2 separate regions of the Homo sapiens genome follow, and region 2 is linked to region 1. The links come from fine-mapping of genetic effects on gene expression. A gene starts in region 1. The other region holds a variant in brackets. All regions are shown on one strand. Distances are between the middles of the regions. Region 1 holds the start of PRUNE2 (prune homolog 2 with BCH domain). Region 2 overlaps PRUNE2 (prune homolog 2 with BCH domain).

Region 1 (5,380 bases):
AAAAAAAAACCAAACTAGTAATTAGGCTTTTTTGTTTGTTTGTTTAGGTATCATATAGCTAAACTTCTAAAGAAAAACATTTAAAACATAGCTCCTACATTCTAATTCTGGTCTAATAAGGCTTAAGTAAAAATCAGCATGGTAAATTTCTTCACCTTAAAATGTTTTCCAAAGGATTGGCTGAATTTTTAAAAATCTTACTATTTTATTTTATTTTATTTTATTTTTGAGACTGAGTCTCGCTCTGTTGCCCAGGCTGGAGTGCAGTGGCACAATCTCGACTCACTGCAACCTCCGCCTCCGAGGTTCAAGTGATTCTCCTGCCTCTGCCCCCCTAGTAGCTGGGATTACAGGCACACGCCACCATGCCTGGCTAACTTTTGTACTTTTAGTAGAGATGAGGTTTCACCATGTTGGCCAGGCTGGTTTCGAACTCCTGACCTCAGGTGATCCACCCGCCTCAGCCTCCCAAAGTGCTGGGATTACAGGCGTGAGCCACCACACCCGGCCAAATCTTACCTTTTTATTATAAATAAATTTCCCACAAGTGAATGACATTGACTTAATTCTTTTTCTCCAAGAAAAAGGTTATCTACCCTCTAAAGGAGAATGTTATCTACTACTATATTTGAGTGTCATACATTAAGTAAAAATCTTATTACCTAGAAAATGTAACTTCTCAGGAAAATATGACACTAAAAGTGACCAACACACCTTTGCTGTGGCTGGATGTGAAAGGTTAATCATGATTTCTAGAAGAAGCTTATTCCAAGAAACGATAAAATTAGCAGTAATTGTTCTGGCTAAGACATGAAACTGGTAACAATATTTCAAACAACCGCTTCTCTTTCCTGTCCTTTTTTTTTTAATGATGTAGAGCAATTGCTCGTCTAATGAAGGGTAAATAAATTACAGATTACTTTCAACTCATTACTCGGAAATAGGGAAACTTCCATTCCAGCAACTGCTCCTCAGAATTGAGACAAACCTCTTGCTCATATCAGACCCCACAGTCTAAATGTTTATTGTGAAAATATTGATAAATAAATGTTATGGGAGTGAAAAACAGATACAGCCCAGAACTCTGTGTTTGTCATTGATTACCATTTTCATACACACACACGCACAGTTGCCAAAATTGTCTTTCATTTTTGAACATTTCTCCTTCATTACTAGGTAAAGAACAGAACATGTACTTATACTATCAGAAATGCCAAATACTTACTTGAGTTTCTGAAATTAGTATTTTCATCCATGTGCTCTAGTAAAACTATAAAAGGGTCAATAAACACAGAGATGATCACAAACTTCCTCAACTCGGAAATCTCCACAAACGTTCAACTCTCTGGGAGGTTTCAGGTAGAAAGTTTTATATAAGCACTTATCAACTTTAATGGTCTTTTACAAGATAGTTACAGTTAGACCATTGTAAGGATCACACTTCCGTCTGCACTCTGAATGGTGGTTCAGGCATCTTTGGGCCCTCCCTTCCTGCACTCCCTTTGTTGTGCGAGGGTAAATGAGTTACAGTAATAACCCTGCAAATATCCTGCCTTGTGATTAAAACATTACCTTAATGCAGACTTTACATTTTGGCTTCTATGAAGGCTTAAAGGTTAAAGGCATCATAAATTATGCATTTCTTTCTATGCCAGGCCTGTAAAAGGTGCTTTTACAGTTCTTTAAAGATATTGCTTCTAAATGAGTACAGGCTTTTCTTTTTTTTTCTGCCAAAACAGAAACATTTCCATTATGTTTATTACTGCTGTGCTGGAGAGCCAAAACAGTTTGGAATTAAGAAACTGCTAGAGTCTGTTGTTTCAGAATGTGTAGCAACTGTTAACATACACAGTGGAGTTGCCCATTCACTGTTTGGACAGTGATATGGTAAACATGGGCTAACACACAGGTCTGCTCCCGGGAGAACGATGATCTGGTAAACTCCAGAACACCAACAGTTAGAGCTTTCCCCTTCTGCCTCCGCCCCAATTTACAGATGTGAACAGGAATTAGCGAGACACAAGACACACTAGAATATCCCTAACTCCTGCAGTGGAGCAAGCTCTATTCTGTGGATTCTCCAGTACCACACATGTCCTTGCTACCCAGCACCCTGACTTCCTCACTTTTGTCACCTCCAGCTGAAGTACAGTTCTAAGGGTCTCTTTTTTTCCTTTTACACTTACACGTAATGCATCTGCAGAAGGCTGGGCTCTTTATCTCAAGGAAGACCACACCCATTTATCCCTTAGCTTTCAGGAGCAAACTGCTGATTTAGGGACCGAAGCTGGACTGAAGCGACCCAACTTCAGCCAGGCCACAACCTCCTTCAGCTCTGCACCTCGTCTGGTTGCGGTGGAGGATTCTGGAGACAGATTGCCAGCTTTAAGAGCCAGAGTTCCTGAGATTTCTTCCAGGAGACAACCCGCACACCCTGATAACTCCGTGGCAAAGTTGTTTCTTCCTCCTCTGCTGCAACACCTTTTCCTCTCCACCTTTCCATTAGCATACGCGCGCGCGCACACACACAGCTTTGCTCACTCAACTTACCAGTTTAGATTTGGCGCGTTGCAAAAATTCTTCCATGTCGTGGCTAGGGGTTTGGAACCCGGGTACTCGGAGGGGCGCAGTGGAAAATCTCGGCCCAAGGAAGACGAGCGGGGTCCCGGGAAAGTGGCCCGCCGGGGCGCAGCGACCGACTGCTCCCTCCTGCCGCTCTGAGGCGGCTGCGGCGGAGGCTGTGCTTGCGCCCTCGACCGTCTCGCCCAGGGCTCCCCGCCCCACCCCTCGCCCGGCCGCCGGCTCTGGGCACCCGACTCTGCCCTAATAAGGAAAGTGGGTGTGCCGCCCAGGAGCCCCGGGGCGCGCCGGGCACGCTCTCTGGCACGCGCCTCGGGCGCCGTGGCGCGTGGGCGGAGGTGCAGGGGTATGGCGAGGGGCTCCTCCGCCAATCGCAGGGCCGTGCTGCGGCCTCCTGACGTGGCGCGCCGAAAGCTGCTGCAACCATGGACAGCGCCCAGAAGTGCGAGCCAAGTGCAAGGGGCTGCTGCAGAGGGAGGCTCTGCCGCAGGCACCGCCGCGGTCAGCGGGGGAAGGTGGGAAGAGGGAGACGGGTCCCAGGAGAGCCCCCGCCTCGCCCAGCGCCTCACTGGCTGGCTGGCGCGTTACGGAGCACTCCGGCGGTCACTTAATGATCTGGTCGGCTGGCCTGGCCGGGGGAGGCACTCAGCTAGATTGGCGTGGGAGGGACGAGGAGAGAAAGAGGGGAGTTACTGCTGAGCTAAAAGCAGTACGACCTTGATGGATAATAATCAGAAGAGCAGGCTAGGAGGTTGGGCGAGGCTGCGTCTTTCCTCCCTACCATGAAAACATGTCCACACAACAATGGGCATCCACAGTTCACCCCAACTAGGTGCCCTTATGTCAGCCCTGGGACTAATGCATAGATACATCCTTCTGCAGTTCCCATCCACTGACATGTACCCTCAGGGAAAGCTGGGGCAATAGAACCTTGCTAAGGTGAGGTGCAGTCTGCAGACCGGCAACATCAGCATCGCTGATCTTATAGAAATGCAGAACCTCAGTCCCCTGCTCCTACTTACCAAATCAGAATCTGTGTGTTTCTATGAGACCCTCAGATGATTTCTATGCTTGTTAAAGTTTAAGAAGTACTACAATGAACAAATGAACTTATATCTACAAACCTTATTTTAAATCATGGGGTTTTGTTGTATGTAGCCTTGTCCGGTCCCCAAACACACTACATCAGGCTTTCTCTGACCTCTGGGCTTTTGCACACCACCTGTAAGATCCTTCCAGCCCTTGTCCTAGCCCCCAGCCTCAGCTGTTCTACAGAAGTAGCCTCAACCCTGACTGCACAGTAAAATCACATCGTAATCACCTGAGACTTGAGAAAGTACTGATACCAGGGCTTTATCCCAGTCCAATTAAATTAATATCTCTGGGCATGGGGCCACAGCATTTCTGTGGAAAGTGACCCAAGTGATTCTAATGTGCAGTTCAGGTGTGATGCTCTGATTCTCGATGAACTTTACATGTATCTAAATCACTTAGAGGGCTTGATGAAACACAGATTTCCGTGCCCCATCCTTAGAATTTTAGCCCTAATAGGTGTGGCTTAATGGGCCTGAGAATGTCCATGTATACAATCTCCCAGGGTTTGCCGATGCTGCTGATCCAAAAACCACACTTTGACAGTGAGTGGCGTAGAAGTTCTCTTTCTCCAGAAAGCCTCCCCAACACACTTTTCCCTTCCCATCCCCAGACTGAGTTGGTTGCCCCTTCTGTATTCCCTCATAGCAACTTACATTTTCCACTCTGCTATAAATTGCATAATTATTTGTCTATGTCCTCCACCAGGCTGTGAGCTCTGTAAAGACAGGGACCTTGCCTGTCTCATTCACTGATGGAACCCTAACATGATGTATGTTCATGTCATATACAGGTCCTCAATAAATATGTTTTAATGAAAAAAGGTACATATGGAAGGGTTTTTTTTTTTTTTGCTCTATTTCTCCTGTCTCAATGTGTGTCTGTTTTCTTGTCTGTCTCTGTGTGTATATGTGTGTCTCATGATCCAATTATTTTTTATTCAGAAGGATCCAATGAAAACAAATCAGCAGGGTCCACAGATCTGATTAAAGGAGAGTGATAAGAATATTAAGCTCCAGGTGACATTCAGGGGTGGGCTTTGTGGAAGCTGGAGATTCTGTCTGCTTTCTGTACTGACTTAAGTAATTTAAAACCAACCAGGTAAAGCAAGTATTTTGTCAGCCTTTAAATCTGTGAAGTTGCACACAATTCAAGTAACATTACTGAGAAAAATTCTAGAGAATGCCTTGCCTCTGACTTCACTGGGGAATTTAGCACCAATTACATAATACTGTTTTATTCCTCTAGCTTTGGCTTATAAATATTCTAGGTAGGTATCACACATCCTTGAAATGTTAAAAAAAAATTCTGATGGACTCAAATTCCAACATCAATCTCCCCATCTTTTTCTCCACCAATAATGTCCCTTCAAAAGTTTATCAAAATTAACATTTTCTATGAAACCTTCCTAAGCTGACCACCTATATTAGCTTCCTGGGGCTGTTTTAACAGAATCTCACAAATTCAGTGGCTTGAAACAACATAAATGTATTACCTTACAGTTATGTAGGTCAAAAGTCCTACACAGGTCTCATTGGGCAAGCAAGGTATCAACAGAGCTACATTCTTTTTTAGAGGCTCTAGGGGACAATCGACTAGAAGCTGCCCATGTTTTTTGACTTGTGGCATCTTCCTCCATCTGTTTTTTTCTTTCTTTCTTTCTTTCTTTTTTTTCGAGATGGAGTTTCCCTCTAGTACCCCAGGCTGG
Region 2 (5,380 bases), 200 kb before region 1:
TCTTGTCTCGCAGGGTTGCCCTATGTAAAGTGAAATAGCGCAGAGTGCTTAACACCTGGTCCAACAGCAAATAGCCTGTAGTTAGTACCCATTTTATACTTAAACTGACATTGGGCATTGACTAGCTTGACTTAAATATTACACTGCTATCTACCTTTTTACTTATGTCTAACTCTTTAGTTAAACTGTAAACTCCTAGACGGCTGACAGTATGTTTTAAACCAGTGGTTCTCAAGCTTTGGAGGGCATCAGGAGTTGCTGAAGCTCAGCTGGCTGGGCCTCACCCCCAGAGTTCCTGATTCCGGAGGTCTGAGTCGGAGCCGATAATTTGCATTTCTAACAAGTACTCAGGTGATACTGATGCTGCTGTTCTTAGGACCCCACTTAGAGAACCACAGTTTTAGACAACTCTTTATTCTCCCAAAATCTAGCACAGAGGGAGACTTACACATTCACAGTAAATTATTTATGCAAAAGATAATACACATGCCGGAGGGAAAATCTGCCCCATCCCCATTGTGAGAAAAGTTTCAGTACTACAAAAGCTGAGCAGAAAGGGATGAGCAAAGAAATCTTGTTGAAAGAAAAGGTGCTGGTGGCACAATTGAACACTGACTGTCATCTGTTGGATCTCGGGGCATGTGCAAAATGCACACAAGAAGCCAAACAATAGCTCAGCCAACTCATGGCTGCCTGAGTTCTGAGCTCAATCTATAACAATGCCAGCAGGGCTGCTGGGATCCATCTGCTACTCTCTTTCTGATAACGGATCTGGGGTCTCTCTGGAAGAAAATAGCTTGACAGGAAGAAAGAAGGATTAGGCCAGCTGACAATGTCTGGATTTATGAAGCTGCCCTGGAATATGGTAGAGCTTTTAACCCCTTCTGCACTTGGCTAATCCTCAACATACCCCAGCTATTCTTTCCATTGTCCTTGTTCCTTTCATCAAGAAATGTAATTTGTGAATGCCAAAGCTCCCCTGGACACATTCTGTTTCCACACAAATTAAGTTCCCAGAATTTAATACTGCAGGAAGCCTTGAGATCTTTCAGCCCAACTCACTAATTTTACGCATGAGAAAACCTAAGCCTGGGATTAATCCTAAAATGTATAATCAGTCATGGTAGAGGCAGGCTGGAATCCAGATTCCTTGACTCACTGTGGGTATGTGATGTGTATAGTCCTTTACACTCCCAAGCTGAGTAGCAAAAATATATCTTTTCTCGCTTTTTTTTTTTTTTGAGACGGAGTCTGGCTCTGTCACTCAGGCTGGAGTGCAGTCACACGATCTCGGCTCACTGCAACCTCCACCTCCCAGGTTCAAGCAATTCTCCTGTCTCAGCCTCCCAAGTAGCTGGGATTACAGGTGCTGCCACCACCCCAGCTAAGTTTTGAATTTTTAGTAGAGACGGGGTTTCACCATGTTAGCCAGGGTGGTTTCAAACTCCTGACCTCAAGTGATCCACTCACCTTGGGCTCCCAAGGTGTTGGGATTACAGGTATGAACCACCGCACCTGGCCGATATCTTTTCTCTATTACATTTTAAGGAGAAAACATGACTTTCCCCGTTACTTAAGTTACTTTTCACAATTTGTTCTTTTGTCCCTGGAAGCAGGTGGGCTTCATAAACACAAATGAAGAGAAATGAAGAATGCTAAACAGTTTCAGCAGAGACTGGAAGCTTGAGGGCAGTGATGACATCCTATTCCCTGATATATGCCCATTGGCTACCCAGAACCACGGCACAGAGCAAGCTCTCAAAAACCACATGGTGAATGAATGAATGAATGAATCACTGATTTAATGACAGTTTGCCAATTTCTCTGCCAATTAGGGAATGAATGTGTTACACTGAGATTTGGAGACTGCTGTGGAGCCTGTCTCTTATCTAACTATAAGTTAGGTGCTTACATAAAACCAGAAAATGCCTTGTATTTGAAAATATGAAAATGCCTCTGTATGCTAAGCGGTGTGTCAACTGAGAAAGTACAGGCTTTGGAGGTGGCAAGCTTCGAATCCCAGGTGTTCACTCTGGTTACTTAATTCTAGGCAAATTATAGAAAATTTCTGAGCCTTGAATCCCCCTACTCAACCCTACTCCTTCCATTCCCCCCACTGGCATGTTAGGATTAAATGAGATAATGTATGCAAACTGCCTTGCACATAGTAGGTGCTGATTAAATGTTAGTGTCACTTCCTTGTATTCCCAACTGCCTGTTGAAGAGTCATGTAGGTATTCAAGTAGGTGGGGTGGCAGTTGGGGGGTAGGTATAAGACTGAATGAAAATTGAAGGGGCTTTTTGGCTGAAAATGTACATAAATTATCATTATGGTTATAGTTATCTAGTAGCTGCTTTTACTGATGGTGTGCCTTGCATTCAATATAAGCAAAGCTGCTATCATCCAGGTATTCCTCATATTCCATAACCTCTAACCATTTCCCAGGTTTCTAAATAAATTGCTTTTCAGGAAAAAAAATAAATCTAGCTTTTTGCTTACCCATTTGGTCTTGATATCCTGGTTCCGAGCTCAAGGAACTCTGTCTCCTCCTCCATTTCCGTGTCAGGGATCATGTTTTTCTGAACAGGCTGTGGTGAAAGCATTTCCCATTCATTGTCATGGGTGACAGCCTGCAACGTAACTGCATCCGGGCCAGCCCTGCCTCGGCTCTTACTCTTCTGTGATTGGCTGACTGGACCAGAGGCTTCCTCTAGTGCCAAAGATTCTAGAGGCTTCATTTCTTCCAGAATCTGCAGCTGGGGACCCTCACCCAAGCCGAGTTCAGAGAACGGCTCCACAGTCTTGCCAGACCACCCAGGCCCTGAGTCCCTGGCATCCAGTGATGGATCACCAACCTCACTATGGCCCAAGAACATCCAACTCTGGTCTTGTGCAGGGCTTTCAAAAGATGATCTCGTATCGCTTTTAGAAGACATTTTCTCTGCAGAGAGACCTTTTCTTTCATTTAAGGAGGCTGGCTGACATGTGTCTGGGAAGCTTGCTAACTGAGTTCCCTGCAGCCCTGTTTCTTTGGAACCTACATACAATTCTAATTCAGCTATGCTTTCTCTTTCTTCACAGGTCTCTGGCTTTGAGTGTGAATTTTCTTCACGGTTTACAAGTATGTAATCCATGTGTAGTGCATGACGATCTTCATTCTTCTCTGTACATCTTTCTTCCTTGTATTCTGATTTTATCTGCTCAGGCTCTTTGGTAGGAATTGTTTTTTCTTCTTCCAATTCTGATATTTCCTTGCTGGCACCTAGAAGTGGAAGTTGAAAGTGAGAAGAGGAGAA[A/C]AAGGTTTAATTAACACATTGTGTGATTTGTGATCCTTGCAAATGATCATCTAAAAGAGGTAATTTAATATTTTTTATATATTTTATTTATTTATTCATTCATTCATTTGAGACAGAGTCCCGCTCTGTCACCCAGGATAGAGTGCAATGGTGTGATCTCGGCTCACTGCAACCTCCACCTCCTGGTTTCAAGCTATTCTTCTGCCTCAGCCTCCCGAGTAGCTGGGACTACAGGCACCTGCCCCCACGCCCAGCTAATTTTTGTATTTTTAGTAGACATGGGGTTTCACCATGCTGCCCAGGCTGGTCTCGAACACCTGACATCAGGTGATCCCCCCTCCTTGGCCTCCCAAAGTGCTGAGATTACAGGCGTGAGCCACCGCGCCCAGCTAGAAAATATTTTTATTTTGTAGAGTCATTCGATTTTCTCGTGCACTATCAGGAATAGGTATTACATATGCACTAGATTTTACTGCTGTTATAATACAGGACTTAGTGAGGCATGCCTTGAAAATGTAGTTAGTTTTCTCTCTACCCTCATTGGTAGGAAGAGTGTGTCTTACAAATATGCACTAGTTTAATCAACGCAGCAGTTTCTTGGAAGTGGAAGAATGGAATGTTTCTTACCATTTGGTGGTCCTATGTCTCCACCTGCTGGTAAATCAGAATTATCTGTTTCTACTTCCCAGTCAACGTTTGATGGAGACAAAATGTTGGAGCCTGCTCCTACCGGCAAATAAACGGACTCAGGGTCTTCACGAATATGCAGCACAGCCAGCTGGGATCCAGGCAGTCTGTTTTTGGTCTCAGCCTGGTTTCCCTCACTTCTTCGATCAGGAAGTGCAGAAAGCACTATCTCTGCTGCTCTGCATCCCAGAGATTCATCCTCTGGAGACCCAGCTTCCTCTATTGTTTCAGCACTCTGGGCAGGTTCTGTGAGATAAGACAAATCAAAGGGAGGTGTGTACGGTGCCAGCGACTGCTTCAGAGAATCTTCCTCCAAAGGAGGGTCACCACCATACAGGAAGTGTTCAGGCTCTCTCAGTAAATCTTCATCGATATTCTGGCCCATTACATCATATTCAAAATCACCCCACGAGGCTTCAGATGAGCAGATATCTTGCTTCCCTAGGTCCCCATCAACTGGCGTTTCCGGATGGCCTTCGGATAATGTCAGTTTACTCATGTCATCTATTGTTCCCGTGGATGTGTTGAGACCTGAGGCATCGCTGAAACTGTGGTCAAAGGCAGCTTCGCTTATATCCAGACAAGTGTCTGAGGCTAGCAAAGCATCAGGAACCAAGGCAGGATTCTCTGTGGATAAATGTGGATCACCATCAAACAAAGCTCTTGCACCAGGCTGACTTTCAGGAGAAAAGCTGTCTGATATCCAAGAACCGTCACCTTCTGGAGTTGGCTCTTGGTGAGTTACAAAAATGCTAGTTGCCACATTTTCAATCCTTGGGATTCTTCTGTCAACTGGTTCCAAAATTGGTGCCATATCTGGGCTGGCTCCTTTTTCTGATACTTGTAAACCTGTACTGTTGTCACCGTTTATTTCAGAAGGTTCAGGTGAACCTTTATGAGAGGCGGGCTGAGAGGAGCCCTTTATGTCTGCTTGATAGCCAATTGGAGGCAGCACAGTTGCGTTTTCAGAATCGAGTTCTGCATTGGATGGGACAAACTCCCGTCCAGGCTCATAAATGGGTTCTTCATCTATCTCTGGCTCAGTGAGACAAAGCTCACTGGATTCCACTTCAGGTCCCATGCAAGCACTGAGGTGCTTCTCAGTCTCTTGCTTTGCTTCAGAATCGTGACATATATCAGGGCTGTCGGAAGCCTGAGAATTGCTGTCATGTTCGCAGTGCGTCAGGATATCAGGATTCTCACCATCTGCTTTCAAACTGAAGGGCTTCTTAGCATCTATCCACAAGTCAGGCGCGGCAGAGGCCAGCTGCCCACCCTCTTGAAAGTTGCCATGTAAAATATCTGGCACAAAGGTACCTCGGGAGTCCTCACTTGGGGTAGAGCCATCCCATTCAGAGCCTGGCTTCATTATCAGTTGGGTGGGAGAACTGACAGC

What was found. PIP is the estimated chance that this variant, and not a neighbour inherited with it, causes the effect.
Region 2: its variant is fine-mapped to the expression of PRUNE2 in whole blood (INTERVAL, PIP above 0.99).

What each region holds. Positions count from the first base shown.
Region 1 is chr9:76,903,378-76,908,757 of GRCh38, forward strand. PRUNE2 (prune homolog 2 with BCH domain) reads right to left here and starts at 2,737. Exons shown (of 19, transcript NM_015225.3): 1 at 2,551-2,737. The coding sequence starts at 2,586. RefSeq lists a silencer at 2,807-2,866.
Region 2 is chr9:76,700,837-76,706,216 of GRCh38, forward strand. It overlaps PRUNE2 (prune homolog 2 with BCH domain), which reads right to left. Exons shown (of 19, transcript NM_015225.3): 8 at 3,925-5,380; 9 at 2,501-3,263. Among named protein-coding and RNA genes, the nearest start is that of PCA3, 61 kb to the right of the region's middle. The variant A/C (reference allele first, on the strand shown) is at 3,298.